5 separate regions of the Homo sapiens genome follow, and regions 2, 3, 4 and 5 are each linked to region 1. Evidence: fine-mapped expression QTL. A gene starts in region 1. Each other region holds a variant in brackets. All regions are shown on one strand. Distances are between the middles of the regions.

Region 1 (6,431 bases):
TGAAAAAGAAAAAAACAAAACAGCTTGTAACACAGAGAGAAATACATCCTACATTGATAAAAATAGCCAAATAATTGCCTCTTCCATCTAACATGACCACTTTGTTATCAGTGACAACTCCAGTCTTGTTATTTCCCCACCTCCAACATAAAAATTACAATAGTCTGATCAAATTACTACTGCTTCTTCACAGCATCCAATCCAGAACAAACCCATTGCCTAAAACTCTCCCCAACTCATCTAACATAAACCAAAACCCTATAACCAGGGTCCTCCTAATTGCCTCTTACCAAGACACCCCATGCATGTGTGGGCTCCTTGGATGCAGCAAGCTAAAACAAACAATTGTTGTTGGTTACAGGTATGTTCCTGGTGATGGCTGATGGTCATCAACAGAGCACACAGGGAAAACATAACATAACAAACAAACGTAACAACTGGTGAATCTGGGTGTAGAGTATATGAGATTTCCTTACGTTATCATTTTTGCAGCTTTTCTACAAGTTTGAAATTATATTTTTAAAAAAAGTTGGCTGGGCACGGTGGCTCATGCCCATAATCCCAACACTTTGGGAGGCCGAGGTGGGTGGATCACCTGAGGTCAGGAGTTCGAGACCAGCCTGGCAAACATGGTGGAACCCCATCGCTACTAAAAATACAAAAAAATTAGCCGGTGTGGTGGCGGGTGCCTGTAATCTCAGATGTTTGGGAGGTTGAGGCAGGAGAATCTTTTGAACCTGGGAGGCGGAGGTTGCAGTGAGCCGAGATCACGCCATTGCACTCCAGCCTGGGCAACAAAAGTGAAACTCTGCCTCAAAAAAAAAAAAAAAAAAAAAGTTAAAGAAATTAGGAAAGTCATTAATCAGAATAATAACGATGACGAGATGATGACAACTATGGCAATAATATCTAACGTTAATTAACAATAAATAGGTAGCTGATCTTCCCACTTCAGGCAGAAGGCCTCCAGTACAAAAGATGGGAAGGAATCTACTCCCCAAAGCCTGGGAGAAATAGATCTTCAGGACTCTGAGTTTCTCCATTTTGACTCTAGACTTGACAGCTGCCTTCTACTCATGTCATGGTTTTTGCAAAGAAACTTGACAGTTAATATTTAGTGGGAAAGAAAAATCACTGGACTGAGTAGGGTTCTAGTATGGCCAGCTCAGTTTTATCTGTGACATCTGGCAGGGTCAGTTTTCTAGTCCTGAGTTTCCAGATAAGACCTTTTCCTGAGCTTCTCAAACTTTAACATGCATCTCGCTCACCTTGGGATCTTGTTGAAATGCAGATTTCTGGGTCCTATCTGCAAAAATGCTAAATCAGAAGGCCTTCGGTAGGGCTCAAGAATGAGCCTTTCTACCTGGGTGATGCCAATGTTGCTGCTTTGTGAACCACAGTTTGAGTAGTGTTGCACTGTACTCAGTCCCTCTCCCAAAACAGCCCCTAATAAACAGAAATATATACAAGAAAAACTTGACAGAAAGGCACTAAACTATAGTTGTTATCTTTATACCCTAAGGTCATGGGGAATTTACATTTTTTAAATGTATTTCTGTGTTTTCCATGATTATGTGTTACCTCTATATTATTTGAAACAAATAAAACTAATAATTGAGAAAACTATTTTTAAAAACTCTTTTCTTTTTTTGAGACAGAGTCTTGCTCAGTTGCCGAGGCTGGAGTGCACCGGTGTGATCTCAGCTTACTGCAGCCTCGCCTCCTGGGTTCAAGCGATTCTCCTGCCCCAGCTTCCCAAACTCCTGGGATTACAGGTGTTGGCCACCACGCCTGGCTAATTTTTGTATTTTTAGTAGAGATGGGGTTTCGCCATGTTGGCCAGACTGGTCTCAAACTCCTGGCCTCAAGTGATCTGCCCGCCTCAGACTCCCAAAGTGCTGGGATTACAGGCGTCAGCCACTGTGCCCAGCCACTATTTTTTAAAAGTCATAGAATAGCCCAGACCTTGAGCAAAGTCCCCACAGTGAAGTCCCAACCTATTTTCACATGATACTAGCCAGCTGCCTATGGCTCATGCAGAACATACCAAAGAAGACTCAGGTCTAGACTCAGACTGCCTCGGTTTCAATGCTAGCTCTGCCTCCTACTAGCTAGGTGGCTATGAGCAAACAAGTTATGTTCTTATGTCTCAGTCTCCTCGGAAAAAGAGTATCACTTCACAGAGCCACTGTATAGTGGAAAGGTGTTCATTTGTATAAACCCCTTAGAATGGAACTTAGCAACTAACGCTAAATTATAATCACTTCTCATGCCCAAATACATGACCCCACACATTCTCTGATTTATGTGAATAAAACAAGAATAACAACAAGTCTTACTCACATGGGGTTCTGCTGCCTCCTCCTCTGTGCAGTGCTTTTTGAGAAGTCAGGGCTGGGGAAGAAAAACAGGCTATGAAGTAACCAGGATTGTGTCTTCATCCCGGATACATCACAGTGGCATCTCCCAGGACCAGTTAGAAGCAACCCTCTCCTTCCTCAAAAGAGGTCAGGGACAATCCAGCTTCATGGACTCACAGAATTTCGCCACAGAACGGGAGTTTCTAGGAAAATTACAGTAGTATTGGTAATTCACGTGCCAGGCAGTTTTACACTTTTTGTATTACCTCGTTTTCTCTCAAAACATTCTATTAGGAAGTTTTTGCTTTTATTTTCCTTCAGAACAGCAAACGAAGGCACGGGGATTAACTAACTCGCTCAATGTGATACTGTATGAAGTGGTAGGGCTGGCTCATTAGGTGGGGGAGTCACAATGAGGGAGCGAACAGCCCGAGAGACCTTCAAACCCGACGAAGCATCACCCCAGCCGCCCGAAGCCAGTACGCCCCCAATTCTAACAAGCTCCGCCCAGGGAAACGCAAAACAGCATCCTGGCCCCTCAAACCTCCGCTCTTAGCCGCTACTCCTTTTTTTCCCCAAACAAAAGACCGCTAGCTGCTGACCACAAGTGCATTTCGGGGAAGTTTGAAAGGTTCCTGAGAAGCTGACCTGAATCACCAAAGCCAGGGAAAAGATGGCTGCTACGTCGTCTTCCTGGGCGGAAGTGCCTGCGAGTATCAGGAGGACCTGGACTACGCTTCCCAGAATTCCACAGCACTGCCTTCCTCGAGCCGGAAGTGCCTACAACTACCTAGAACGATTGGACCTACAGTTCCCAGGATTCCGCAGGGGAAACATTTACAGCCTTACTGCAGCTGAGCTATGCGCGACTACACGGAACTCCGGACTACATATCACAGAATGCTGGAGTTGGGGGAAAAACAGAACAGTACCGCCCTCCTGGACTACACTTCCGGAATGTCCAAGCCTTCTGATGTGGAAGTGTCCAACTACCTTGAGCTCCTGGTTTTCATTTCCCAGAATCCCTCACTTCTCTTTAGGTATTATTATGGTCTGAGTGTTTATGGCCCCCACCAAATTCGTATGTTTAAATCCTAACTCCCAAGAAGATATTAGGAGGTGGAACCTATGGGACGTGATCAGATCAAGAGGGCAATGCCCTCATGAATAGGATTAATGCTCTCTTATAAGTGGCCTGAGGGAGCTCCTTTGCCTCTTTAGTTATGTGAGGACACAGCCAGAAGGACCATGTATGACTTAGAAAGCGGGACCTCACCAGACACTGAATCTGCTGGCACCCGATCTGGGGCTTATGTGCCAGCAATTTCACTCCTAAGTAAATACCCAGGAGAACTGAAAGATATCCACACAAAAACTTGTTCTAAAAAAGTTCATAGCAGCATTAGTCATAATAGTCAAAAAGTGGAGAAGACCCAATGTCCATCAGCTGATGAGTGGATAAACAAAATGTGGTCTAGCCATATAATGCAATATTATTTAGTAATGTGAATGAACAAAATATTGATTCATGTTATAACATAGATGAACTCTGAAGACATTATGTCCAATGAAAGAAGCCAGACACAAGATACCATATATGGTATGATTCCATTTATATCAAATGTGCAGAATAGGCAAGTCCATAGAGACAGAAAGTAAATTAGTTGTCTCCAAGGCTGGGGAGATGTAGTTGGGAATGGGGAGTGACTGTCAATATGTAGGGTTTTTTTTTTCTTACTTTTTTAGAGACAGCGTCTTGTTATGTTTCCCAGAATGGAGTACAGTGGCTATTCACAGGCATGATCATAGCACACTGCAGCCTTAAATTCTTGGGCTCAAGTGATCCTCCCGCCTCAGCCCCCTGGGTAGTTGAGACTACAGGCATGCACCACCACACCCAGCTCATGTAGGGGATTTCTTTTGGGAGCAGATGAAAGAGTTCTAGGATTAGATAGTGGTAATCATTACATAATATTGTGGATCTTTTCAAAGATAGAAAAATGTTATGTGACAATATCCCCTAAAGCGTTAAAATGTAGCTAAACTCAAAGCTAAGACAGGGAAATCCCAACGGCCAAAGATGAACAGGCAAGTTAGGCCCACAGATGAAAAAACTGAATGATCCCACAAGGGCTGGGCATACTAGGTAAGAGCTAAGGAATTAATCTTGTGTGTGAATGGGAGTTAGAGTAGCCATGCATTTTGGGAGACATGAACTATACAATATTACAAATGAAACAGTTCTCTCCTCTTGACTGTGAACAAACAACAACCAACCAAAAACAAAGCCAGATAGCTCCCAGCTTCTACAGCTGTCTTGTGACTAACCTGAAAACTCTGGTCATGAGGAGGGTAGATGTAGACTGTACCTACAGTCTTATCAGTTATGGGGCAGAGGGGCAAGAAATTATTTGGTTTAGTCTACTGGTTTTGGTTACAAATTACCTTGAAGGAAGATGACCTAATGTGGTATCTGGTGATACAAAGAAAGAAAAAGAAAGAAAAGAATATAGGTACTGGATTTCTGAAGCCCTTTGTTCAGAAAAGAGTTAACATAGGCCTGAGACTGTTGTACTTAAAAGGCCTGCTTGCAACATGCTATAGTTTGATGGTGTTCCCTTGTTAAAACTTAATCCCTTCTTGCTTTTTCATCACTTCCACCATATGAGGACATAGCATCTGTCTCCTCCAGAGGATGCAGCAACTGGATGCCATATTGGAAGCAGACAGCAGCAGCCCTCACCAGATGTTAAACCTGCCAGCATCTTGACCTTGGACTTCCCAGCCTCAAGCACTATGACAGATAAATTTATATTGTTTATAAATTACCTAATCTGTGGTATTCTGTTATAGCAGCGCAAGATATAAGGTTAGCCCTTGACTGGTATCTGGGAACTTGAATTTCAGGAGGATTTCCACAATTCTCTGATGAGAGTGGCTCACCATGCCCCGGCTATTTGTATAATGTGATTTATGCTGAATTCCTTCTGGGAATCTAGAATTTTGGCCCAAGCTGGCCTATGTGACCAGTTCCAAAACAAAACACAACGTAGTGCCTAGGGCACTAAGTCTCCATTGAGCTTACTGGGTAGACATTTCACATGTTTCAATGCTGAAAAAACAGTACATCATGAATGATTCTACAGGGAGTGGATTATTGGAAGCCTGTACCTGATTTCTTCTGGACTTCATCCCATGCACATTTTCCCTTTGCTCAACTGACTTGGTATCTTTTACTACAATAAATCATAGTGACTATGATAACATAGGGTGTCTTGAGTCCTCCTAGTGAATTACAAGAATGTGAAGGTGGTATTATCAATCCCCAGCATACCATGCACATTGAGGTAGCATGGACCTTAATGAGTAGCAAGCATCCAGTGAAGGTATACTGAAGAAAATCAATAGTGGAAAAAAGTCTCCCCAGTTAGATATAATTTATTGAGTAAAGCCCTTTAATCCAGCAGTTCACAACCTTTTTGGCACAGGGGACCAGCTTTGCAGAAGACAATATTTTTCCACAAGGTGAGGTGGGGGGATGGGGATGGTTTGGGGATGATTCAAGCACATTACATTTATCATTTTATTTTCACAAGGAGCGAGCAACTTAGATCCTTTCTTTAAAAAAAAAAAAAGAGTTTCGCTCTTGTTGCCCAGGCTGGAGTGCAATGGCGCAACCTCGGCTCACTGCAACTTCTATCTCCTGCGTTCAAGTGATTCTCCTGCCTCAGTCTCCCAAGTAGCTGGGATTACAGGCACCTGCCACCATGCCTGGCTAATTTTTGTATTTTTAGTACAGATGGGGTTTCACTATATTGGCCAGGCTGGTTTCCAACTCGTGACCTCAGGTGATCCGCCCACCTCAGCCTCCCAAAGTGCTGAGATTAAAGGCATGAGCCACTGCGCCTGGCTGCAACCTAGATCCTTCACATGCGTAGTTCACAATAGGGTTCATGCCACTGATCTGACAGAAGGCAGAACTCAGCTTTGCTCACTTGCCCACTGCTCACCTCTTGCTGTCTGGCCCTGTTCCTAACAGGGTCTGTGGCCTAGGGGTTAGGGACCCATGCT
Region 2 (6,431 bases), 100 kb after region 1:
CAAGCGCCTCTTGTAGCGCTTCCCACAGTCTTCACATTTGGATGGATTTTCTCCACTGTGGTTTTTTTGTTGGTCTTTACGGTATGACCGGTATACAAGCTTCTTTCCACAATCCTCACATTTGAATGGTTTTTTTCGGCAATGGAGTCTCTTATGATTCAAAATACTTGAGGCCTGTCTAAAGCTCTTCCCACAGTCATCACAGTTATAAGGTCTCTCTCCTGTGTGGGCTCTATGGTGCAAGTCAAGACCTGACTTAGTAATGTAGCTCTTCCCACACTTGTCACATTTGTATGGCTTTTCTCCAGTGTGGACTCGCTGATGGATCAAAAGATAGGAGGACCGTCTGAAGCTCTTCCCACATTCTTTACAATTATATGGTTTCTCTCCTGTGTGGATCGTCTGATGCTTACACAAATCCAGCCTACGAATGAAGCCTTTTCCATATTCCCCAGTGCTGTTTGGTTTCTTTCCTGTGTGGACCACACAATGCCTATTAAGACTTGACCTAAGACGGAAGCTCACACTACATATCTCACATTTGAATGGCTTCTCCCCTGTGTGAATTCTCTGATGTTTCTGAAGCTGGAAATCATGAATGAAGGCCCTCCCACATGCCTCACAATTATAATGTTTCTCTCCCATGTGTAATTTGCAATGAACTGTAAGTGCTGATCTACATCTGAAGCCTCTCCCACATTGTTCACATTTGAAAGGTTTCTCTCCAGTATGGACTCTCTGATGAGTTTGCAGATGTAAACTCTGACTGAATTCCTTACCACACACGTCACACTTAAAGAGTTTCTCTCCCAGGTGGACTCTCTGATGAATATGAAGCGCTGAGATGTAACAGAAGCTTTTTCCACACTCATCACAGGAATGAGACTTCTCTGCTGAGCGTATTTGCTGAGGAAGATCAAAGATGGACATATCACTGAAGGATTGTTTACACTTCCCACAATTGGAAGGTTTCTGTCCTGTGTGCATTATAGATAGTCCTTCCTCAACCTGGGAGTGGGCATCACCCTGTTCAAAGAACTGAGAGCTCTTTATGGTAGAGTCTTGAGGCCTGGTTAAATCACTTGCAATTTCTTCCCAGATCTGCTGGCAGGACCACCCTTCATGTGGTCCTGCTTCTGGAAAAGTCTTCATCTCAGGTTGGATCTTGCCTCCTATCAGAATACAAAATTAAGAGATCAGGACAAGCTATGCCCTGTTCAGTGTTTTTAAGAGTTCACACTTAGGACATGGTATGAAACTTCAACGAATGTTCAGTTTGTGTTTTCCAAGTGCACCCTGGTTTCTGGTTTGCATGAGAGTAATCTAAAACCATACCATGTCACTGGGGACGGTGGCTCACACCCATAATCCCAGCACTTTGGGAGACCAAGGCACTTTGGGAAGCTGAGGCAGGCAGATCACTTGAGGTCAGGAATTCGGGACCAGCCTGACCAACATAGTGAAACCCCGTCTCTATTAAAAATACAAAAATCAGCTAGGTGTGGTGGCACACACCTATAATCCCAGATACTTGGGAGGCTGAGGCAGGAGAATTGCTTGAACCCAGGAGGCGCAGGTTGCAGCAAGCCGAGATCGTGCCACTGCACTCCAGCCTGGGCGACACAGTGAGACTCTGCCTCAAAAAAAAAAAAAAAAAAGAAAAGAAAGAAAAAAACATACCACATTTCAAATAAAAAATCATTGATAGAAATAAAAGGTTTAATAAAAAATTAATATGACACATACATTTAACCTGTTACTGTTTTTAAAATTTCCAACTCAGTCTGAAATTTTACATGATAAATTACTAAACTATTATGTACGTAATGAAATATGAATCAAAAGGAACTCTAAGGGAAAGCAGTAACATAATAAATACTTCGTATATTTGCCTGTATATTATATATCCTTATAAAGAAGTTAACCTTCCTTTCAGTTTAAGATGGCTTAAAAAACATTTTTAAAAATAAGAAAAGGAGTTAACCTAACTAAAAAGAGGTCAGGACTTTGTCCTCAGTATCTGAGAGGTAATCTGTAGAATCTTGAAGGGGCATGCCTGAGGAGAGTCTCTCTGTTTGCTTGGGGGCAAATCTTGGGTAACTCTTGACAGTGAAATAATATAATTTAGGGTTGTGACTAGCCACAGCTTTGGGGGATGGGAAATGGCAGGTGGCATTCCCCATGTCAGAAAAAATAACGATGTGATTTAATGTAGGTCTTTAGGTCACAGGGAACCAGTGGACCAAAAGACTAAATAACCACACAGGAATCAACCAACCAATTATGGCTATGTAATGGAGCCCCAATAATTACTTGGATCCCAGCACTCAGTTGAGTTTCCCTGATTGGTGGTTCCTTGTGTCTAAGTCACATGCTAATTTTGGGTATGTAACATGCCCGACTCTACTGTGAGAATACAATAGGAGATCCACATTTGGTACTTCACTGGACTCTGTCTTATTTGGTTTTTCCCCCTTGGTTAACTATAATATGCATCTTTTGCTTGTAAAAATCAGTAACTGTGAGAATAAATACATCCAGTGAGTTCTGAGGGTCTTTCTAGGAAATTATTGAATGTGAAGGTAGTTTTGAAAAACTGCCGAATTTGCACTTGGAGTGAAGTGAGAGCAGTTCTCTGTAAAATGTCCCATTAAACTTTTTAGTTTAACCCTTCATGATACTAAACATCAAACACCTTAGAATGTTTATATCTACAAATCGAAAGTATTCCTATACAAGAATTTTGCATGACACATATAAAATACTTAATCTTATTTTTCTGTTTTGATATGGATGATAAGTTGGTTATCTGAAAGAGTACAGAGACAGACAACTGCAGTTCTGAGGGGAATCTGAAAGGCTGTCCTTCCAGAGGTCCACAAAGGAGGATGCTCTTCATCAGACAATCAATGATGTGAAGAATCACTTGGAATGAAAAGAAAGCCTATGATGTAGATAAACAGGCCTTTTTAACTGTTTTTATATTCAAGACTACACATCAGTGAGCTGAAATAAAGTTAAAACCTTCAATAGACATTTATAGAAAGGAGCCAGAATGAAAATTATCACAGTGTGGAGACAAGCAGGAAAGGTGTCGTTACATGAAATGTCAGCT[A/G]AAGTCACTCACATACACCTACATGCATGAAAACTGTCCAGGTTATACTGAAAGAGGTGTTTCTTATTATGGTTCATGCTCACAAAATGTTCAAAACTTTGTCAGGATATTACCAAGTCCTGAATTAGGTAAATTTTTCTGATGGAGAGTTAAGTTCCAAAGGTTGAAACTTGGAAAATATTAATAGGTAAGTGGGTACCCATCAGTATACCTAGCCAAACTCCACCCTTAAGCCTAGAACCTCAGCCCTAAGTGAAAACAGATGACCCCATTTTTCTGCCCCAATGTTGCTTTTTTTGGCCTGCCTGCCACTATCCTGTGACCATAAAAGATTTCAGCTGGCAGAGCAACACAAGCAGCTGAGTGGCAAGGATACAAGTCGCTGAGCGGTGAGCAGAGAAGCAACTGAGTGTCGGAAAGTATGGATAGATGTGGCTAACTTCAGAAGGTGCTGCTTTGGAGAGGGGCCCAGCCACAAATGGCCTGGCTTCAGGAACATGTTGATCCCCTTCCCAGCCCCTTTCCAGCCTCCTTTTCTGCTGAGAACCACTCACCACTCAATAAAGTCTTCTGCGTTCATCACCTTTCACACAGTTCATGTGACCTGGTTCTTCCTGGATGCTGGACAAGAACCCAGGTGCCAAGAGGGCAGGGGCTGCTACCCTGATGCTCCACTGAGCTGATTGGCACTTGGCCATCCCCAGATGGCAGAGCTGAAACAGCATGGGTTGTAACATGCTTGGACACTGCTGTGGGGCGTGCATAACAGAGCCTGCTCTCGCCAGAGAGGAGCGACCAGCCAATTCCAGCATTCATTTGCTCCGGTTCCTGCACTTGCTCGCTTGCACACTCCCTCCTGCAAGGAATCGACAGCGGTGGGCTGAGTGAAACAAACCCTGAAGTTCCTGCCCGCAAAGATGGTCAAGGGAACAATCCTGTCTAATAGGTACATGGATATATTTAATACACTGTGACTTATAAATAAGAGGTCTTTAAGGAGATGGGAAGGGGTCTCAGGATGTTTCTATTTTGAGTAAGTAATTCCCCAATTCCTTCCAGGTCATAAAGCTTACTAGTTCAAAATATAGCACTAAATCTATAAAAATAAACAAAAAGCCTGTCCTTTAACTTTTTGACAATTAAATTTGCATAATGTAAAGAAAAGGGAAATACGCACATTTTTGAAGAAAGATGACCAGAAACAGAGTCAACATTCAGCTACATAACTTGTGTCCTCTCATCCTCATTCTTCCCCCTCTAAGGGAAGGAAGGAGGAACTGGAGGCAGTGAAGTGTGGGCCGACTTTGGAAAAGGCAAATGGGCTGCAGATGGGTAAATCTCTCAAAGGAAAGCTAGCTGCAAATCCTCATTCAAAAAGACTTTCTTCTCAGATATAAATATGCTCCCTATGGAAAGCTCCAGGGTAGGTCCCAGGGAAGGCATATTACTCAGTGTGGTCATGAAAAAAAAAATGCTATGCTTAGAAGTTTCCACAGGACATGGGTCAACTGCACACACATAAAACCAATCATGTCAAGGAAACCTAAGAAAGTTGAAAATGGATAAGCAGCCATCCACAGAGAAAAAAAAAATCTGTTCTGCAATATATAATCAGCCCTCCATATCCATGGGTTTGGCATCCATGGATTCAACCAACAGGACATAAAAAATATTTAGGGAAAAAAATTCCAGTTCCAAAGAGCAAAACTGGAATTTCTCACACACTGAGTCCTATGTTGAATCCTTGTGAATGAAGTGACAGGTAGGCATTGCATTTGGTATTATAACTGGTCTAGACATGATTTAAAGTATATGGGAGGATGTACATAGGTTATAGGCAAAGACTTCACATATATCAGGAACTTGAACATCTCTGGCTTTCGGTATCCATGTGGGGTCCTGAAATCAAACCCCTATGGCTTCCAAGGGACTAATATATTTCATACACTCTGGTTCATGTATTACTTATTAGCTAGCTCCATGATTCCTACAGACAGTGAAGTCCCCCCATCCATTAATTCATTCATCAGGATACCAAATATTTACAGATCCCTCCATGTACTAGGACTATTCTAGGCACTGAAGATGCAGTCATAAACAAACAGATAAACACCTTGTAGAGATTATATTTGAAAGGGAACAGGTGATCTATCAGTAAACAAAAGCATATGACACATAATACTTGCAGGCCAAGTAAAGATAGGATGGTATTTTCAATAGGGTGCTTGAAGATGACCTCTTCCATGACATTAAAACTCAGCAGACACCTGCATAAACTAACAGAGGGGGTCAGTAAGTTTTGTGGGAACAGAGGACTCCAGTCAGAGAGAAAAGCAAGTGAGGGCCCTGAGGCAGAAGCTTCTGTGGTAGGGAACATAATTGTTCCTGAAAGATGTCCACATCCAGCCTTCAGGACCTATGATTCTGACACATTACACAGCAAGGCAGATTAAGGCTGCAGATGTCATTGAAGTCACTAATCAGCTAAGCAGAAAGTAGGAAAGTCAACTTGGATCATACAGGAGTGATGAATACAACCACAAGGGACCTGAAAGGTGAAAGACATAGGCATAAGAAGAGTGGCAGAGGGAGCATGACTCTGGAAGAATGGTCAAGGATGCAATGTAGCTGCCTTCAAAGATGGAGGAATGGAAACTAGAGCCACGGAGTGTGGACAGTGTCTAGGGACTGGTAAAACAAAGTGAAGCCTTCTCCCCATGAACATCCAGAAAGGAACAAAGCCCTAAGACAGCTTGATTTTTTCCCAGTGAGATGTGTCAGACTTCAGGCCTAAAGAACAGAGAAATAATAAATGCTTCTTATTTAATCATCTAAGTTCGTGGTCATTGGGTACCAGCAACAGGTGATACAGTGTCCTTGGCAGGATGGAGAAATAAGAGGGATGACAAGGTGGCCAGAAAAGATGGAGAATGAGGGAGAGTATGGGAGATGTAGTCAAGAAGCAGTGAAAAATGAAGAGTAGACCACAGGGGTTTCTAGAAGCAACTTAAAGAGGCTTTCATAAAATTAAGAAGACAGAAAGGCTCTTAAGCTGAGGAATGACAATCTGACATCCATGTCCTAAGGATCACTTTAGCTGCCATGAGGAGAACAGATGTCAGAGTGGGAAGGCACGGAGCAGGGCCACTAGCTGGAAGGAGGTTATCATAATCCAGCAAAGATGTTTGGCCATTTAGAAGAAGGTAATGGAGTTGGACGTGCACAGAAGTAAAACAGATGGAAGTCACAAACAAGGACACACAGTTGCGTGCTTCTTACCTGAATTCCCTTCCCTTTGGGTTGCTATATCCATCAT
Region 3 (6,431 bases), 45 kb before region 1:
GAAACAGGAGCGCGGATCATAGGTAACTCGCTGTTTATTATACCCACAGAACTAGCGGCGCTGCTTGCCAAGTGCGGGAGGAGAGCAAACTTCCCGCCCTCGGCCTCTCGGCCTCCGCCGCGGCCGCGACCTCTCCATCCCAAGACTGATGGCTGGGGAGCGCCTATTCCCAAGCACAGGCTGAAAAGGTTCAAGAGGGGTCGTGGGGGTGCAGGGCTGACTCACCTCCCGGACCCAAAAGATGGTGGCGGCCTCGCTTTCCGGGGCGGAAGTGGCTCTGCCTGCCCAGAGCTCCTGAACTACCCTTCCCAGAAGGCCCGCGCTCCTGCGGCCCAATTGTTTCCGGACAGAGTTCTGGAATACGTTTCCCAGAACTTCCAGAAGGAAAAACCATCCAGGTGCCGCCCTCTTCGCGCTTGAAAAAAAAAAAAACAAAAAAAAAAACGGAGCGAGCGAGTGAGAGAGGGTTACGGAGAGTGTGACAAAATTCTCGGAGCTCCCGGACTACAACATCCAGAATCCTCTTCACGGCTTATTGCTGTTTAGCCAGGCTGAAGCAGTTCTCTGATGTCAGTGGAATTTAGGTTTTTCTTATTAACAAAAAGTAACAGCAAATATGTGAAGAATTGGAGCCCTAAAATAAAAAAAGACTCCCAGCACTTTGGGAGGCCGAGGCGGGCGGATCACGAGGTCAGGAGTTCCAGACCAGCTTGGCCAATATGATGAAGCCCCGTCTCTACTAAAAATATAAAAATTAGCCGGGCGTGGTGGCGCGCGCCTGTAGTCCCAGCTACTTGGGAGGCTGAGGCATAAGAATCGCTTGAACCCTGGAGGGTGCAGTGAGCCAAGATCGTGCCACTGCACTCCAGCCTGGGCGACAGAGTGAGACTCTGTCTCAAAAAAAAAAAAAAGAAAAAAAAAACTATTATAAGAAACAGATCACGTGATCCTGTACTAATAGAATTATACCCACCACTTCCAAAAAAAAAAAAAAAAAGGGCAGAGGAAACCCTTTAAGTTTTTACATTTAACAGGATCGACTAATAGAAAAACTACTCTTTAGATACTAAAAGAATGAAAGAGCAATCAAAAAATGCAACGAAGGCAGAATATATTATGGATTTCCACTTTTCTTAATAGCACAGTCATATAATTCAGAACAACTTGCTTACTGAGGATAGCTAGACATAGAAAACACAAGCTTTGGCATATGGTAGATCAACTCCACAAAGCAACTAGGGCCTCTGTAATCATTCCTCAAGGAGTTTCTGAATTTGAAAGATGAACAAATTTATTACTTCAGTGTTTAAACCTTGATCTTTATTTGCTTAAATGTATAATGGAATTGATGTTTCCAAGAATTGAGGGTTGAAAGAAGAGAGCAATACCTAAAAATATCCACATATCTACTACAGTACATGTTTGCAGTTCTCATTTACTAAATATATATTCTTTATTCTGTTATATACAACTATCTCTTATAAAGAACCAAGTATGTGCCAGGAACTAGTTCAAACTATTCAGACTATGGGACCCTCACTACATTTTCACAACTTTTTTCTTTTTTTTTTTGTTCTGTTTTGTTGTTGTTGTTGTTGTTGTTGTTGTTAGACAGAGTTTGGCTCTTTTGCCCAGGCTGGAGTGAAGTGGCATGACCTCGGCTCATTGCAACCTCCGCCCTCACACAAGGTTCAAGCAAGTCTCCTGCCTCAGCCTCCCAAGTCGCTGGGGTTATAGGCACCCCCCTCCCCACCACGCCCAGCTAATTTTTGTATTTTTAGTAGAGACGGGGTTTTGCCATCTTGGCCAGGCTAGTCTTGAATTCCTGACCTCAGGTGATCCACCCGCCCCGGCCTCCCAAAGTGCTAGGATTACAGGCATGAGCCACCACACTTAGCCCATTTTCACAACTTTTTTAAAACAAATAATGTCCTCTAGTTTACTCTTTGGGATCCAGAGGCAGAGAGAGGTTAAGTATATCTCCTAAGATGGAAATTTGATTATTTTCACCTGCATGTCTATCCAGTGCCCTTAAGAGAAGGTTCAAATGCTTTAACAAGTCGCACAAACAGGAATTTTCCAGATGCTGTTTCTCTCTTGGAATCCACTTTCCACTCTACATGTCCAGCCATAGTGGATTACTTGTACTCCTACAAAAAGCCTCTAATTCTTTGTATTTGGTGTTCCTTCTGTCATAACCTGCTACTCTTTTCCCTCCTGGGTGACGGTCTTCATCCATAGCTTAAATATTCCCTGCTCTAATAAGACTTACTGTGGGTTCTTGCCTTGTAGACTAATAAAAGTAGTGTGTAGTAGCTAATATTACAGCCTTAGTATAAAGCTATCTAGATTAAAATACTAGTGCTTCCATTTCTTCTGTCCCCTTTTTCTTCATTTGTAAAATGGAGACTATAATAGGGTTGATATCAAGTACAAATGAATAAATACATGTAAAACACTGGAAATTCTGCCTGATTCATGACTACCCTATAAAAAGTTAGCAAATGTTAACCTCAGGGGATAAACACAGGACACATAAATTATGGATGGAAGGTTTCTACAAAAATTTGCTTTGATCACTAAAATATTATCAATAACCATGCATCAACTTTTGATTACTGGGAAAAAAACTAGAAGACTATGCAAATGCATCCCACCAAAAGTGAGATAAAGAGTCACTAATATTGACATTATTTCCTTTTATTTTTTCCTAAATCCATTTTGGGAATTCTGAATACAATCTAAATGATCTGCAGGTTTCCATTTCAAGATACTGGGCAGCTCCACAAACCACAAACACTAAACCCCTCCTTACCAGTCTTGTGCTGGGTGCTAAGCACATGGTAAAGAATGGGACATAGTTCCTGCAACAAAGTAACATGCAGCCTAAGGGAGAAACAGATCAGATCTAAAAGACCCTGAGTAGGCCGGACTCTGTGGCTCACGCCTGTAATCCCAGCACTTTGGGAGGCCGAGGTGGGCAGATCACGAGGTCAGGAAATCGAAACCATCCTGGCTAACACGGTGAAACCCCGTCTCTACTAAAAATACAAAAAATTAGCCGGGTGTGGTGATGGGCGCCTGTAGTCCCAGCTACTCAGGAGGCTGAGGCAGGAGAATGGCGTGAACCCGGGAGGTGGAGCTTGCAGTGAGCCGAGATCGCGCCACTGCACTCCAGCCTGGGCGACAGAGCGAGACTCCGTCTCAAAAATAAATAAATAAAAATGAATAAATAAATAAATAAATAAAAGACCCTGAGTAAAACATTCCAAATAAAGAAGCCAAATTCATAACTATTCCTTTCCAAATCTCAATGATTCCCTCTCCTTTAGGTTTTTCACATAACTACCTTCCTCCTAGTTGCCAGGAAAGAAAACCCTGAAGTTATTTGCTTTCCTTTGCTCTTCATTCATAATTACTTTATGTTAATTACTTTTAATTTCTACCGACTGACTAGGATTTGGTTTTGATTTTAAATAGTCAAATTCCTCCTCTTCCCACCAAAAACATATGTGGGAGAAGAGTAATAGATGCAATAAGATAGACAAAATGTTTA[C/T]AAGAGTTAAAGACAAATGATGGCGGGGTGGGGGTCATTAACACTATTTTCTGTATGTGCATGTTTGGGAATTTCTACAAGAAAAATTAGAGAAATACCATGTGGGTGGTATGGCACCAATGCATAAATGCATTTAAAATGTTAGCAGTGGTTATCTCTAAATCCTGAGATTATGGGTTAAAGGAACGGGGTCTCGCTGTCATCCAAGCTGGAGTGCAGTGCCGTGGTCATAGCTCACTGCAGCTTCAAACTCCTGAGCTCAAGCGATCCTCCCACCTCAGCCTCCCAAGTAGCTGGGACTATCGGTATGTGCCACCACACCCAGCTAATTGTTTAAATATACAGCAGTGAATATGGGTAACTTTCATTTCCTTTTATACATTTCTGTATTTTCTAATCTCTCTATAATGGTCATGCATTATTTCTATAAGGAGAATATAGACTCTAAAGCCCCAGATCACCTTCCAAACCTGATAGAAAAAGACTTCCACAAACCATATACACGATTATTTCATATGGTTCTAAGAAAAATGTACAGCGTGGAGAATATGAACACAGACTTGAGGCTCCAACTTCTTGGGTTCATATGGACGTTCTGCCTCTTACTAACTGTACGTTTTAGGGTTCGTCTTCCCTCTTCTTTTTCTTAGAGCATTTCCATAAGAAACCTAGTGCTTCTGAATCCTTTCTCTAACCTTTTGATACGCATGTAAATTTCATTAGCGGCTATGTAAGCCTCTAGCCAGGTTTACAACCTAGAAGTATTTGTGAAAGTTCTGAGATTTGTCCCTTTTGAATATAAACATCTGAGAAAATAACAACCCACTGTCCCTATCACTGCAAGAGTTTAACCAAGGTGCCTCTCTTTAAACTGTAAATCGGCTAGCAGATGAGGTAAGAGAAGTTTTATTACTTTCGATAAAGTTAGTTAACTAACACTGGATTCTCAAGTAAATTTAGAATAAATTTATAAAAGAATTTGCAGTAAATGATGAGACCAAGTCCTCTTATTGAAAAATCATTAATCTTGAGAACTGATGTACATAGTGGTCAAAAGTAGAATTGTATAAAAAGTTTAAAACTGCTTGACTGTACACATAGGGCGGAATTTTTTAATAATATTTTTCTTTAGATTGCCTACAATACTATACAGTGGTTGTCCTTATTCAGTAATAAGACAGCTTTCTTTTCTACATTGTGTGGAGAGGTCTATTATCTTCGTCTCTCTGTTAGAACATAAGTGGTACCTACCACATAACGGTATTTTGGACATTTAATGAATAATTCGTATAAAAGTACAAGGACCTCCTACTAATGACTCTACTTCAGGAATGAGGAGAATGGGATAGAGAAAGATTAAGATTAACTCACAAAACGTTATAACACTAGTAAGTGGCAGAGCTGGCAAGTAGGTGGGAGAGGCTGGCTGCGGAACGCCAGGAGACCCTCTAACCAAGCGACAACCGATCCAGGACGCTCCCAACCCGGGGACGCAAGAACTGCTCCAAACGTGAGGCTCAGCCGAGAGGAAAGAACACAAACTGCTCCCAACTCCAGCCTCCCAGCTGGCCACAGCTTCTCTAGCCTTCCTCCAGACGAGGGCCAGGGCCCCGCTTGCTCCCTGACGAGGCTGAGAAAACTTGGAGGGTCCCAGCGGATCCAAACACTTGTTTTCGCCCTCCTAGAGCGAAAAAACTTCCCAGCAACTAAAGAGAAACCCCGGATCACTTCCCACAATTCCCTAGCTCCGCCATCCAAAAGCGGAAGTGCCCCAGGCTACGCGGGCCCCTGACTACACTTCCCAGAATGCCCCAGGGGAAACCGGCCATAGTTCCGCTCCTTGGAGCGGAAATACTTCCGAGTAACCTGAGCTTCCGGGTATCCTAGAAAGCCAGAGCAAATCTTAGCCAAGATTTGCAATTTTAGAGTGGAAGTGTCTGTCTTGGTGGTACCTACCGATTCTGTTGTTCAAGGGCCTTGGGGAAGAAGTTGGGGATCGGGAGAAGGGTACCTAGTAAAACCCAAAGAGCTGCACTACAGGAGTAAAGATAAAGGGCAAATAGATCATCTTCACTAGGGGACTGAAGCAAAACTTGAAATCACATTCGTACCTGAAAATAGATTAAAGTAAACCTTTTCTGTTAGTGTTTGCAGGTACCTGACATAAACAAAAATATTCTAATGGAGAAAGAGACTATCGTCCTAGGCCTCATATTCTTTCTCTAATTTTAAAATATATTAATATTGGACAAAGTACAATAGTCCTTGAAGAAAAGAACATTTTAAGATATACAAAGAAACACTTCATAGTAATGAAAATTTTCTATCAACTATAACAGCCTTACATAATGTAAAGCAAACTTTATAAAGAAAAATTGATTGACAGACTCATAAGGAGAAAAACACTGATAAACAGGAGAGCTTTTAATACATGATTAGAAGGAAACATAGAAAGCCTTGAAATCATATACAGGTCCTGGAGTTAACAATGGTTCACTTAAGATTTTTCGACTTCATGATGGTGTGAAAGCAACACACATTCAGTACAGTACCTATACAACCCTTCTGTTTTTCCCTTTCAATACCTATTCAATAAATTATATGATATTCAACACTTTATTATGAAATAAGCTTCTTTTTGCTAGATAACGTTGCCCTTGGATCACCTGAGGTCAGGAGTTTGAGACCACCCTGGAGAATATGGCAAAACCCTGTCTCTACTAAAACTATGAAAATTAGTCGGGCGTGGTGGTGCGCACCTGTAGTCCCAGCTACTCTGGAGGCTGAGGCAAGAGAATCACCTGAACCTGCGAGGCGGCGGTTGCAGTGAGCCAAGATCGAGCCATTGCACTCCAGCCTGGGCGAGAGAGCGAGA
Region 4 (6,431 bases), 87 kb after region 1:
ATGATGAAAAAGTCCCATAGGTTTACTTTGTGCACTTATTAAGTCTCCTTGTAAGTAACCCTCTAGGACTCTAAATGCAGCATCCTGGGCTGCACATATATAGGTTTCAATGAATCTTGCCAGTTGCTCCAGCAACATTTAGCAATTCAGTCTTAACTTTGTTTGACAATGCCCAGGGTTCTCGTACTTGAACCCTGGATGTAATCATTTTTCTTTCTTTCTTTTTATTTTTTGAGACAGAGTCTCACTCTGTCGCCCAGGCTGGAGTGCAGTGGTGCGATTTCAGCTCACTGCAACCCCTGCCTCCTGGATTCAAGCAATTCTCCTGCCTCAGCCTCCTGAATAGCTGGGATTATAGGCACCTGCCACCATGCCCAGCTAATTTTGTATTTTTAGTAGAGACCATGTTGGCCAGGCTGGTCACGAACTCCCGACCTCAGGCGATTTGCCGGCCTCGGCCTCCCAAAGCGCTGGGATTACAGGCATGAGCCACCACACCCGGCCCATTTTTTTTTTAATATCTGCCAAACTAACAAGTTTACAGTGACCTGTGTGGGACAGCCATGGAGTGGGTCCTCTGTATTCAAGACGCAAACTACATATATTAATTGCAGCACTGAATGTCATGATCTGGAGCCAGTGTGCCTATGATCACACTGAGTGTGTGTGCTCACTCACAAGGCTCAATCCCAAGGCTCTGTGCCTTTGCCTTCCCAGCCACGTGACCTTGGATAAGTTTGCCTACATGCATTCGTTTCCTTTCTGTATAAAGACTGTCACATCAGTTTTCTCCAGGAATAAGCAAGAGAATATAAATGGGGAAAGTCTGTGGCACAGACTAGGTATTTAATTAACATTAGTTAATTTTATTACCTTTTTGTCTTTTTTTTGAGACGGAGTTTCGCTCTTGTTGCCCAGGCTGGAGTGCAATGGCGCAAACTCAGCTCACGGCAACCTCCACCTCCCCAGTTCAAGCAATTCTCCTGCCCCAGCCTCCTGAATAGCTGGGATTACAAGCATGCGCCACCATGCCCAGCTAGTTTTGTATTTTTAGTAGAGATGGGGTTTCTCTTTTTTTGCTGTTTTTTGTTTTGTTTTGTTTTGTTTTTTTTGAGATGGAGTCTCACTCTGTCCCCAGGCTGGAGTGCAGTGGTGCAATCTCAGCTAACGCAAGCTCCGCCTCCTGGGTTCACACCATTCTCCTGCCTCAGCCTCCCGAGTAGCTGGGACTACAGGCGCCCACCACCACACCCGGCTAATGTTTTGTATTTTTAGTAGAGACAGGGTTGCATCATGTTAGCCAGGATGGTCTCGATCTCCTCACCTCGTGATCCGCCTGCCTTGGCCTCCCAAAGTGCTGGGATTACAGGCATGAGCCACCACACCCGGTGGAGATGGGGTTTCTCCATGTTGGTCAGGCTGGTCTCAAACTCCCGACCTCAGGTGATCTGCCCACCTCAGCCCCGCAAAGTGCTGGGAATATGGGCGTGAGCCACCGCACCTGGCTGGTAATGTCCTTTATTCGTATTTCTTTGGATTTTTTATTATAACTTTCATTATAGTTATCTATTTCATTTCATGTCTGCATACTATTACAGGGAACTGATGATCTATCTTTATTCTAAATAATGAATATTTAATTTTATGTAGTTTTCATTAATACCAATCCTGCAAAGAAAATCATGTATGTGGACCTTACTCTCCCGTCTGATCATTGAAAATAATTTTGGCCAGGTATGGTGGCTCATGCCTGTAATCCCAGCACTTTTGGAGGCCGAGACAAGCAAATCATTTGACCTCTGGAGTTCGAGACCAGCCTTGGCAACATAGCAAAACTCCGTCTCTACAAAATATACAAAAATTAGCCGAGCATGGTGGCACGTGACTATAATCCCAGACACTTGGGAGGCTGATACAGAAGAATCGTTTGAACCCAGGAGGCGGAGGTTGTAGTGAGCCAAGATTGCGCCACTGCACTCCAGCCTGGGCAACACAGCAAGACTCTATTTCAAAAAAGAAATAAAATAAAATAATAATTTAGTTTAATTTAATAATTTCAAACCAGGTGCAGTGATTCACACCTGTAATCCCAGTGCTTTAAGAGGCTAAGGTGGGGGGATTGCTTGAATTCAAGAGTTCAAGACCAGACCAGGCAACACAGCAAGACACCAACTTTATAAATTTTTAAAACTAGCCAGGCATCGTGGTGCGTGCCCGTAGTCCTAGCTACTTGGGAGGCTGGGGCAGGAAGATCTGGACCCCAGGGGTTCAAGGCTGCAGTGGGCTACACTTACATCACTGTACTCTATCCGAGGCAACAGAGCAAAACTCTGTCTCTAAAGAATAAGAATAAACTATAATACAATAATTTCAAATGAAAATTAAAGTGTCAAAAAATAAGAATGTTTAAAATTGTGATCATATATGTCAGATCTCAATTTTTTCTCAAACTCCAAAATCTTTCAAGGGGATATATTACCCTGGTTTTTCTTAAAATAGCCAAAAGCAGATTATCAAATTTCCTGTGATTTTGATAATCTCATTAGAGAGAATTCACCTTATTAATCCCATGTATTTGAATATAAATAATACTATCACCTTTTCAAATATGTATTGGCCACTTCTATTTCTTCTCTAAAATTTACCAATTAATGTATTAATGTCCTTTATTCATATTCCTTTGAATTTTTTTCTCCATTCTGTACATAAGATTCTTATTTTGGATTATGTCTTTTTTAGATATCAAAGTGGTAAATATTTTCACCTTAGGCTGTTATATTCCCTGGTAACACTCTATAAGCCATCTTTGCCATTAGGAATTTAAAGATTTTCTATAGTGAGTGTAGCAATCACTGTCCTTTGGTGCCTGGAGTACTAGGTGCACCTGAGGAGGTGGCACAACAGGAAGAGAAGAGGACCCCCGAGGAGGGGTCAGGGAGGAGCTATGTCACCAGTGGTTGTCATCACTCAAGAGGGCACTCCAGACACCCATACCAGAAGGCATAGGTCCTTCAATGGAGAATCCTCTTTCTTCTTCTCTCTCTCTTTCAATTTAGCAAAATAGCTAACATGC[C/T]GACCCTAGGTTTCCTCTCTGAACCTCAGCAGGTTTCTCATATTTCACATATTTAAGAGGAAGATGAGGCTGAGAACTGCATCATTCAGCTGTTCTGAGGAACAAACAAAGGAATAGAACACAGTGACTAGAGAATCTTCTGATATCATGGACATTTGAAACTAAAGCTACCAAAACTAAAAAACTAAAAAAAAAAAAAAAAAAAAAAAAGACAGAAAAATGATTACATCCAGGGTTCAAGTACGAGAACCCTGGGCATTATCAAACAAAGTTGAGACTGAATTGCTAAATGTTGCTGGAGCAACTGGCAAGATTCACCGAAACCGATATATGTGCAGCCCAGGATGCTGCATTTTGGTCAAACTCCTTAATACATAAAGGAATAAGAAAAGACCAGTAAATAACATACACACAATGCATGACTTAAGCATGGGGAAAACAAAAGCTAGCTCTTCCTATGTGAAAATCTCCAGAAATCCTTGTGTGAAGCCACAGTTACAGCCTGCTGTGCCATGCCACATATGGATATTTTATCTACAAAACAACCAACGTGGCACATGTCAAAAGTACTCTTTCAAAACTGAGCTCCTAGTGCCTGTGAGTATAAAGTAGTTAAAAAGAAACATCGGCAGGTGCAGTGGTGCACACCTGTAATCCCAGCACTTTGGGAGGCTGAGGCAGGCAGACCACTTGAGGCCGGGAGTTCAAGACCAGCCTGGCCAACATGGTGAAACCCCGTCTCTACTAAAAATACATATATTAGCCAAGTGTGGTGGTGAGCGCCTGTAATCCCAGCTACTTGAGAGGCTGGGGCAGGAGAATCGCTTGAACCCGGGAGGCGGAGGTTGCAGTGAGCCGAGATTGCGCCACCACACTCCAGTCTGGGCAACAGAGCAAGGCTCTGTCTCGAGGAAAAAAAAAAAAAAAGGAGCATCAATTCAATGGGAACATGATGCAACCATAAATAATGAATATTACATAATATTAAACACAAAGAACACAATTTAAATTAGATAAGTATCAATACAAATACAGTTATGAATATACATGAGGAATAGCATGAGAAAATAAAAATGCCTAATTAGTGAGAAAAGATGTAGTGAAATGGGAGAATTGTTCCTTCCCACTAAATTTCTACTCATAACATAAATAATGGTAAAAGTAAACAAAATCAAATCCAAACGCAAATTCAACACAAAAGAAACAAGGAAGCATCTGGCACACAACAGGTGCACAAATAACTGTTGTTCTCCTTGAGTCTTCCCAAGACCGAGAAAAACATGTGACAATCTTAAGTAGCAAAACAGAATCTGAACAGCAAAAGAGACCAGACTTACTCACCTTGAACATGGTCATTTTTCCTCCTTCTTTGGGGAATTTGCAGAGTTCTCAGTTATGCAGTTCAAGAGAAGACAGAATTGTGCCTGAAACATGCCATGGAAGGCAAAAAAAAAAAAAGAGACATGAAGGGGTGGTCAGTGATGCCACCCAACAGTATGAACATGTGTTGTGAATTAGCACTTGAATGTTCACAGGGGCATTATTCATAATAACCCAAAATTGCACACAACCAAAATGCCTTCCTATGGGTAAATGGACAAATTGTCGCCTATCCATACAATGAAATCTTACTTGGAAATTTAAAGAAATGAAATATTGACTCATGCTACAACATGCATGAACCCTGGAAACATTATGTTAAATGAAAGAAGGCAGTCACAAAAACCCATGGACTGTGTGATCGCATTTATATGAAATGTTCAGAATAGGCAAATGTATCATAGAGAAAGTAGATTAGTGGTTGCTTCACATTTGAGATGAGAATGAGGTTTAACTATAAATGGGCACAAGGAGTCCAACTGGGAGATAAAAATGATCTAAACTGAATCATGATCATGGTTATTCCACTTCACAAAATTCCTAAAAATCACGGAGTTCCATGCCTGAAATGGGTGAAAGCTATATGTGAAATACATCTTGATAGAATTGGAAAAAATAATTGTTAATCTACATGTCATTGAAATCAGTAAGACTGAATTCTGAGTCCATATCAATAGAATATTTATAGTTGAATGAAGGAATGAATAAATGGGGGAGAAATGGAAACTCTTCTTTACAGTAGAATGTCCACTAATCATGTATCTCCCCATAAGGAACTTTATTATTTTCAAAATTTAAAAAAAGTAACTTCACAGTGGACAAATCTGAAAGACTTCATCTTGGCCAAGTGAACAAAGTTGAGATCACCAGTGAAGGGACAAACCAACATCATTTGGACACTGTTAGGTTGCAATGAAAAGGACATCTCACCACTACTATGGTATCCCTGCCAATCATGCATACTCTAAACGTAAACATGAAATTTACCAGACAAACCCCAAATGAATGTCTTTCTGCAAAACAACTTGCCTATACTCTTCAAAAAACCATGCATATAAAAGACAAAGGCTGTGGAATCCTTCTAGATTAAACAAAAGTATAGAAATGTGACAATAAAGACAATGCATAAAATTGGACTTTGAATGGGGTTACAGGTAAAAAGTGGGGCAAGGGATAGTTATAAGGACCAAAAGAAGAAACTGAATAAATTTAAATATGGAAGCTGCAGATTAGATAACAACGTTATGTAATATGGTATCCAACACTATCTAATAAATGACACTACAACTACTATTATTAGCTTTTTAACAGATGTGATATGTAATAGATAACAATATTATTTAATATAATATTTAATTATTTTTTTGAGACAGAGTCTCACTCTGTCATCCAGATCAGAGTGCAGGGGCGCCATCTCAGCTCACTGCAGCCTCTGCCTCCCAGGTTCAAATGATTCTTATGCGTCAGCCTCCCTAATAGCTGGGATTACAGGCGCACGCCCCCTCAAATTTTAAAAAAGTAACTTCACAGTGGACAAATCAGCTAATTTTTGTATTTTTAGTAGAGATGGGGTTTCTCCATGTTGGCCAGGCTGGTCTTGAACTCCTGGCCTCAAGTGATCCACCTGCCTCGGCCTCCCAAAGTGCTACAATTACAGACATAAGCCACCATGCCTAGCCAGTATAATATCTAATAGTATCTAGCATGTTATGTGAAACCCTATAACCAGCCCTTTCTAAACACCTCTTACCAAGACACCCCACAATTATCTTGAAATGTGGGCTTCTTTGCTGCAGAAAGCTACAAGCAACTGTCTCTGGCTACAGGTATGTTCCTGGTGGTATCTGGGTGATCAGCAAGAACAAAGCAAACAGGAAAAATGTAAACATTTGGCAAATTTGGGTAAAGAGTATATGAGAATTTCTAACACTATTTTTGCAATTTTTCTATAGGTTTCAAATGATATGAAAATAAAACG
Region 5 (6,431 bases), 210 kb before region 1:
CCCGGGTTGAAGTGATTCTCCTGCCTCAGCCTCCTGAGTAGCTGGGACTACAGGTGTGCGCCACCACACCCGGCTAATTTTTGTATTTTTAGTAGAGACAGGGTTTCACTGTGTTAGCCAGCATGGTCTCAATCTCCTGACCTCATGATCCGCCCACCTTGGCCTCCCAAAGTGCTGGGATTACAGGCGTGAGCCACTGCGCCCAAGTGATTTTTTAAACCATGGTTATCCACTCCACCTTTGGCAGGTCCTAGACTCCAACTATCAGCTTCTCAGGTTTTTACCATAAGGAATTGGCAAATTCCACCTCAAACTTTTTTTGAGATAAAAGTGGTCTCAAATACCTAGCTTACCTTAATGGATTTTTTGCAGAGACAAGGTCTTACAATATTGCCCAGGCTGGTCTCAAACTCCTTGACTCAAGCAGTCCTCCCACCTCAGCCTCCCAAAGTGCTGGAGATTACAGGTATGAGCCATTGTACTCAAGTCTAGAATCTGATTTGTTATGATGGTTTCCATATTTTAATCTGTCTCTTTTTGCATATTTGCTGTTATTTATTTTTGTCTTTCTCTTCAGAGGGAAACTTGCTGAGGATTTGAATTGACTTTAGTTGAAGAGAATATGGTTTCTGTTTCAAATATTTCCAGTCCCTTCTATGAAGTATTGCAAAAACCAATAACTTGCATTTAATCTAGACTTTACATCAAATTTCTACTTTACAGAACATTTAAAAGAGCAGAGGAGAAAATATAGGGAAGGCTTTAGACAAATCCAGAATTTAGACACCTAATTTGACATTTTTATTTCCCCAACAGTTCAAGGAAATAAAAAATGGTGGTGGTGGTGCTGTGTGTGGGAGGGTCGGGGTGGGGGCATAGTTTTAGAGTAAATGACTTTCTGGTGAGATAACAATCAAATACAATGGATCAAAATGTTCGGATAATGACTGGAATAAACCAGCTGTAAAAGCATTTTCCCCCCAAAAAACAGATTCAAATTGGCATGCATATTAGATAATACTAAGATTTGTTAATTTTATCTCATAAGGTAACGGTTTTGTGGTTATGTTAAAACATCATTATTTTTAAGTGATACAGATAGTATTGGGAAGGGATAAGGCCAGGGATCTGCTTTAAAATATTTCAGTAACAAAATTCAATAGTCATAGATATTGCCTGTGTGGCAAAATGTTGGGAAGTGTTGAATTTAGGGTAGGTGCATTTGGTGTTTCATGTTATCATTTCCTTTTTTCTTTTTTTTTTATTTATTACTATTATTTTTTTTGAGACGGAGTCTCCTCTGTCGCCCAGGCTGGAGTGCAGTGGCGTGATCTCAGCTCACTGCAAGCTCCGCCTTTTTGTGTTAATATCGAAAGTTTCATTAAAAATTTTTTTTCCTGCCCAGAAGGAAAGTGGTAAGTACATACTTCCTGTAGTTTGACTTGTTATAGTTATCTGGAGTCCGTCTCCCATCTCAACCTACCCACCTCTTCCTGAATAACCATAAATTCACATGGCTTAAACTGATTTGTAGAAAAGATACGTTCATGTTAAATATATGAGGTCAACGGGCAACAGAGGAATAGCCAATTCCAAGCCTGATTTGAACTCAAAAAATTTCAAGAAAGGAGCCATTTTCCATATCATATTTTCTAAATTTCCTGCCAGTACAGCTTCCTTCATTTTTCAGATACAACTTGCTCTTTCTGTGCTTGATTTCAAGACTGATTTGTCCTTGGAATTCCTTGTGGATTCTTGTCATCTTGAAATAAATTGTCCATGCCAGATAGCATAAGCAGAGGTCTAGATGACTACAGGCACATATAAAGAGGCAACGGAGTTAAACCACGTCTGGAGATTCCATATTCCTTAAGGTTCTGTCCAGTGGACAGCCCAACTCCCTTTTAGAATCTTGTTTTTTCTCATACTCATCACTTTTCCGCTAAAGCGTGTTTCTTTTCATACTAAAGCCTTTGCTTTTATCCCCAAATAGTCATACTTTCTTTATATTTCCACATACTCGTTTTTTCTTGAGGAAAAAAAAATTACAAAAATAAAAAGTCCAAGCACTAATCGCGCCACAGAAGTGACCTTCAGTTTGAACGCACTTAACTAACAGAATGAGCTGTAGGAAGGTGGAAGCACTAGCGTGCTGGGTATTCTGGGAACTGTAGTCGGAAGTATTTTCGCCCAGGCTGGTGGAGTCCTTGTCGTCGTTCCGCTTAAACATTCTGGGAAGTGTGGGTCAGACGTTTCATATAGTCGACAACACTTCCTCTTCGGGACTACAGGGTGTGGCCCTCTGGTGTGACTCCTGACTCTGGGAAGTGAGTCGCAGGAACTTCCGCTCCAGGGAAAGTTGCGGCCATCATGCTGCATGCAAGACTTGAGCCTTAGAGACCCTTCTGCGCCTCCTCAGCCTGGGTGAGGGACCAAAGATGGTCAAGGCCCTCTGTCTTGAGGAGGAAAAGTGGCAGCCGGTGGAGGATTAGGGTTGGAAATGTTTGCGTTTCCCTCGACTCAGTAGAGCTTTCCAGTGTTACGGGAGGTTCCCGAGTCCCAGGCTGGGGAATGAGGCAGGGTCTTGCATCATTGGGTTTGATGGTTTCTTGGGTCCTGTACTCCCGTAGCCCTTCTGTTGGACCCACCAATCAGCATTGCCGCTTCCTTGGGAAGTTTTTGAAGCGTTGGAAATATTCTGCAACTTGATTGTGTTGGTAGTTACATGTCTGTACATATTTGTTAAAACTCATTGAACTATACACTTAAAAATAGTAGCCTTTATAATGTATGTACATTGCACTTCAATAAATATGGCTTTTTAAAAGTGTCTGGAACTTTTTTTTTTTTTTTAAGTGGCAGGACCTCATTACAAGTAAGTTCAGAACTAAGTTAGGACTTACCTATAATCCTACTAGCACCACCCTCATGTAACATTTTCATTTTGGTTTATTTTATACTTATGTAGAGATGTGCTTTTTATTAAATAATGTGTAAATTTTAAATTAGTATTTCAGTTAGTAATATACCATAAGTTAATTTTGCTGTTTCCCACGTTCTTCATAACGTTCATCTTTAATGATTGTGTTGTATTCTATTGAGTGAATTTGCACTTGTTAAACCTGGGCATCTGGGATGTGTTTAAAAATTATTCTCATAGTTTTATGTATATATGAAATGTTTTACAATTTAAGAGATATATACTGACTTCCATGCCTCTGGTCGTCTTTTTTGTCTATCCTACTTGGGGTATTCATTTCCATGGTCATACTATAGGCCTTAAATTAGCAATAGCTGCAATCCCTCCATAGTCTCCATTTAAGGCATTACAGTCTGCTCTACATATTCTCTTGCCAGATCTTCCTATGGTTTACTGTCATATTGACTTCATCAATTTCTACAATTCATTGATCCTACTGCATTTTCAATATCCCTTGTTCATCTCATATCCTCAATACCAACCAAATCTTTTCTCTTCTTTCT[A/G]GTATAAACAGAAGACTGACACTTACATCTAATTGTTTCAAAATATTGTCCCATGACAACCATAGACTTAAGGAACATTAAGAAAGTATTTTGATTTTCCCCCATAATTTTATAGAAGAGACATGCAGGGTCAAAGGGATTATGAATGGATGCTCTGTGAGCCAGTCAATAGCATATGTCCCAAAGGCTACAGGTTAAGTATATTACCTGGCCCAGCAGCTTTAAAATCATCTTTTGGTCTCCTACTCTAGAGAGTGAACTTCAGTTCAGGCACCAGTGATGCTATTATGTGAGGAATATTGACTTGCCTCTGTTTTTGTTTTTAAATAACATAAGATTTGGTATCAGTTATCACTTAAAAGTTATTTGTGAGACACTTTCTCAGTGTATGTGACCTTGGCTGGGAAGCATTGCTTTAGAGGTACAGAGATCAGAGACCAGATAACTTTGATAAGTCGGTATGTGCAATGGTAGAAGTATTTTAAACATGCCATGAAAGGGGATATTTCAATTCATGGCATCTATTTTGGGGGGAAAATGCTCTCAAATACTATTGGCTCAGTCAATCAGATCACTTGTTTTGGGATAGGTTTGGTAATATGACTCTATGCACTGTGCATACTCTTAGATTCAAGGGTCTCCATTCAAGGAATTTATATTATGGTAACACTCATTTAAAGATCAAGAACAAATGGACATGGGTGTTCACTAAAGCATACTTTTGTGAACCCAAAAGTATGTGAGACAGGTCTCAATGAATTTAGAACATTTAGTTTGCCAAGGTTAAGTACACACCTGTGACACAGCCTTAGGAGGTCCTGACAACATGTGCCCAAAGTGGTCAGGGCACAGCTTGATTTTATACATTTTAGGGAGAAATCAGGCATCAAACAGTATGTGTAAGTTATACATTGCTTAAGTCCAGAAAGGCAGGACAATCTCGAATGGGAGTGGGAGCTTCTATATCATAGGTAGATAAGAGACAAACAGTGGCATTATTTTGAGGCTCTGATTAGCCTTTTACTGAATACAAAACTCACAAGTGAGAGGTGGGTAGACGAATAGTGACTTAGGTCTTAATGTTGCTTAGTGAATCTGCATTACTACATAAACAATAGGGAAGAGGAAGCAATCAGATATGCATTTGTTTCAGGTGAACAGAGGAATGACTTTGAGTTCTGTCTGTCCTTTATCCCACACCTGTGAAGATAAGCTATCAATTTACATTACCAGGGTGAAATTCAACAGAAATGCTTTTGGATAAAGATGTTCAGGCCCACAAACAGGCCCCTGTGGACAAATTGTGAAGGAGGTATGTAGCTTTTTCTGCTTTACAGCTATCTTATTAAGTAATCAAATGGGAGGTTTGCCTGACACAGTTCCCAGCTTGACTTTTCCCTCTGGCTTGGTGATTTGGGGGTCCCGAGATTTATTTTTCTTTCACACTTTGCAAGACTATGGATGCTTAATAGGATGAGATTAGCAATTGAAAGAGAAAAAATTTTGATTCCTAAAGTCTTCACCCTTTCCCTCAAACTCTTTTAACCTTGTTCTTCTTCTAATGGACATTTGTGCATGATTGAGGTGTAGTATCTTAGGTGCTGTAGGAAACAGTAATATTCAAGAATGTGCTGTGATCTGCACTAAGGAGAAGGTGATGCTACTGAACAAGGCCAAAATAAACCTACCTATGGAGAAGTATTCTTGCCGAAAACGATGAAACTTAATCTCATCTGCTTTCTAAATCTAAATTGTAGTTTACCAGAGCCACAGAAGATATTCAAGAAAATGTTAACTGACAGCATAATGAAACATTTTTAAAAATCCAGAATGTGGGACATCTTACTTGACAACTGACCTGATGTCTTGTATATGCCAAAAGCATGAATTTAAAGTGGATCAAAGGGGGGATACTCTTCCAGATTGAAAGAGACTCAAGAGACAAAACGATCACATGCAAAGGATGGACATTTTTGAGATGACTGGAAATTCTGAAGTTTTGTTTTTTAGGGCATAAAATAATATTAAGGAATTATTAACTTTCTTCAGTGTGACAGTTGTATTTTTGTTATATTAGAAAATGTAATTCTTTGAAGTATGCATGGGAGTGTTTAGGGGGAAATAATACAGTGTCATGATTTTGTTTTAAAATTACAATAACAAAAAGGGCAGAAAGACAATATTGATAGATAAAGGAAGTGTGGCACATGTTGAAAATTGCTGAATCTGGGTGATGAGGCAATGGAATACTTCACTCTTTATTTCTATCAATGTTTGAAATTTTTCATAACATAAAGGTATGAAAATGTTTAGTTCTTGTCCAGAAGAAAAGTGGTAAGCAGAACCTTCGTGTATTTTTATTTGTTGGGTTTTCTGGATTTGCGTCCAACTCTCAATCGACTCACTTGAACGAAATATGGTCTCACTGGTTTTCATATTCTTCAGTTATCATTGTATTTATGATAATAAGAATAGGGTGGAAGTGGGTGATGTGATGCTTGAACTTGAACAAAAAGATATTTCAAATTTTTATATATTTATCTCTTTTCATATTATAATAATTCCTTCACATGAACACACCTCCTTTCATTCGCCTCATGAGCCACGTTTTACAATGAGCAATTAAAGTCAAGGAACACCCAAAAGCTTTTGCTGCTTCTGCTTTATACTTTAATAAACTTTGCATGACCTTCTTGTGGTTCTTGTATCATGGAATGAATAGCATATATCAGATAACACTGCCAAGAGTTCTAGATGCATCCAAAACACATGGAATAAAGTAGAAAATCCAGTCAAAGTAGGTTTGAGATCTTGTATTCCTTACATTCGTGCCCAGTTTCTAAGTTCTGCATTTTTTGCTTACACATATCTTCCCCTTTATAATCTATGCCTCCTTTTCATTTCAAACTGTGTTCTCTACTAAAGGGATTTGGGTGGGAGACAGGGTG

The links.
Region 2: its variant is fine-mapped to the expression of ZNF226 in unexposed skin (GTEx, PIP above 0.99).
Region 3: its variant is fine-mapped to the expression of ZNF226 in unexposed skin (GTEx, PIP above 0.99). The same link has a PIP of 0.9 or more in blood mononuclear cells and whole blood.
Region 4: its variant is fine-mapped to the expression of ZNF226 in whole blood (INTERVAL, PIP above 0.99).
Region 5: its variant is fine-mapped to the expression of ZNF226 in esophagus muscle (GTEx, PIP above 0.99).

The regions. Positions count from the first base shown.
Region 1 is chr19:44,161,720-44,168,150 of GRCh38, reverse strand. It overlaps ZNF226 (zinc finger protein 226), which reads right to left and starts at 3,051. Exons shown (of 6, transcript NM_001032373.2): 1 at 3,009-3,051; 2 at 2,344-2,394. RefSeq lists enhancers at 3,030-3,149, 3,210-3,359.
Region 2 is chr19:44,060,805-44,067,235 of GRCh38, reverse strand. ZNF223 (zinc finger protein 223) reads right to left here. Exons shown (of 5, transcript NM_013361.6): 4 at 6,395-6,431; 5 at 1-1,172. Among named protein-coding and RNA genes, the nearest start is that of ZNF284, 8.1 kb to the left of the region's middle. The variant A/G (reference allele first, on the strand shown) is at 3,116.
Region 3 is chr19:44,206,380-44,212,810 of GRCh38, reverse strand. ZNF227 (zinc finger protein 227) reads right to left here and starts at 279. Exons shown (of 6, transcript NM_182490.3): 1 at 226-279. RefSeq lists enhancers at 4,983-5,032, 5,043-5,142. The variant C/T (reference allele first, on the strand shown) is at 3,557.
Region 4 is chr19:44,074,388-44,080,818 of GRCh38, reverse strand. ZNF284 (zinc finger protein 284) reads right to left here. Exons shown (of 5, transcript NM_001037813.4): 2 at 4,415-4,497. The coding sequence starts at 4,429. Among named protein-coding and RNA genes, the nearest start is that of ZNF284, 5.4 kb to the right of the region's middle. The variant C/T (reference allele first, on the strand shown) is at 3,074.
Region 5 is chr19:44,367,779-44,374,209 of GRCh38, reverse strand. No RefSeq gene overlaps it. Among named protein-coding and RNA genes, the nearest start is that of ZNF112, 14 kb to the right of the region's middle. The variant A/G (reference allele first, on the strand shown) is at 3,484.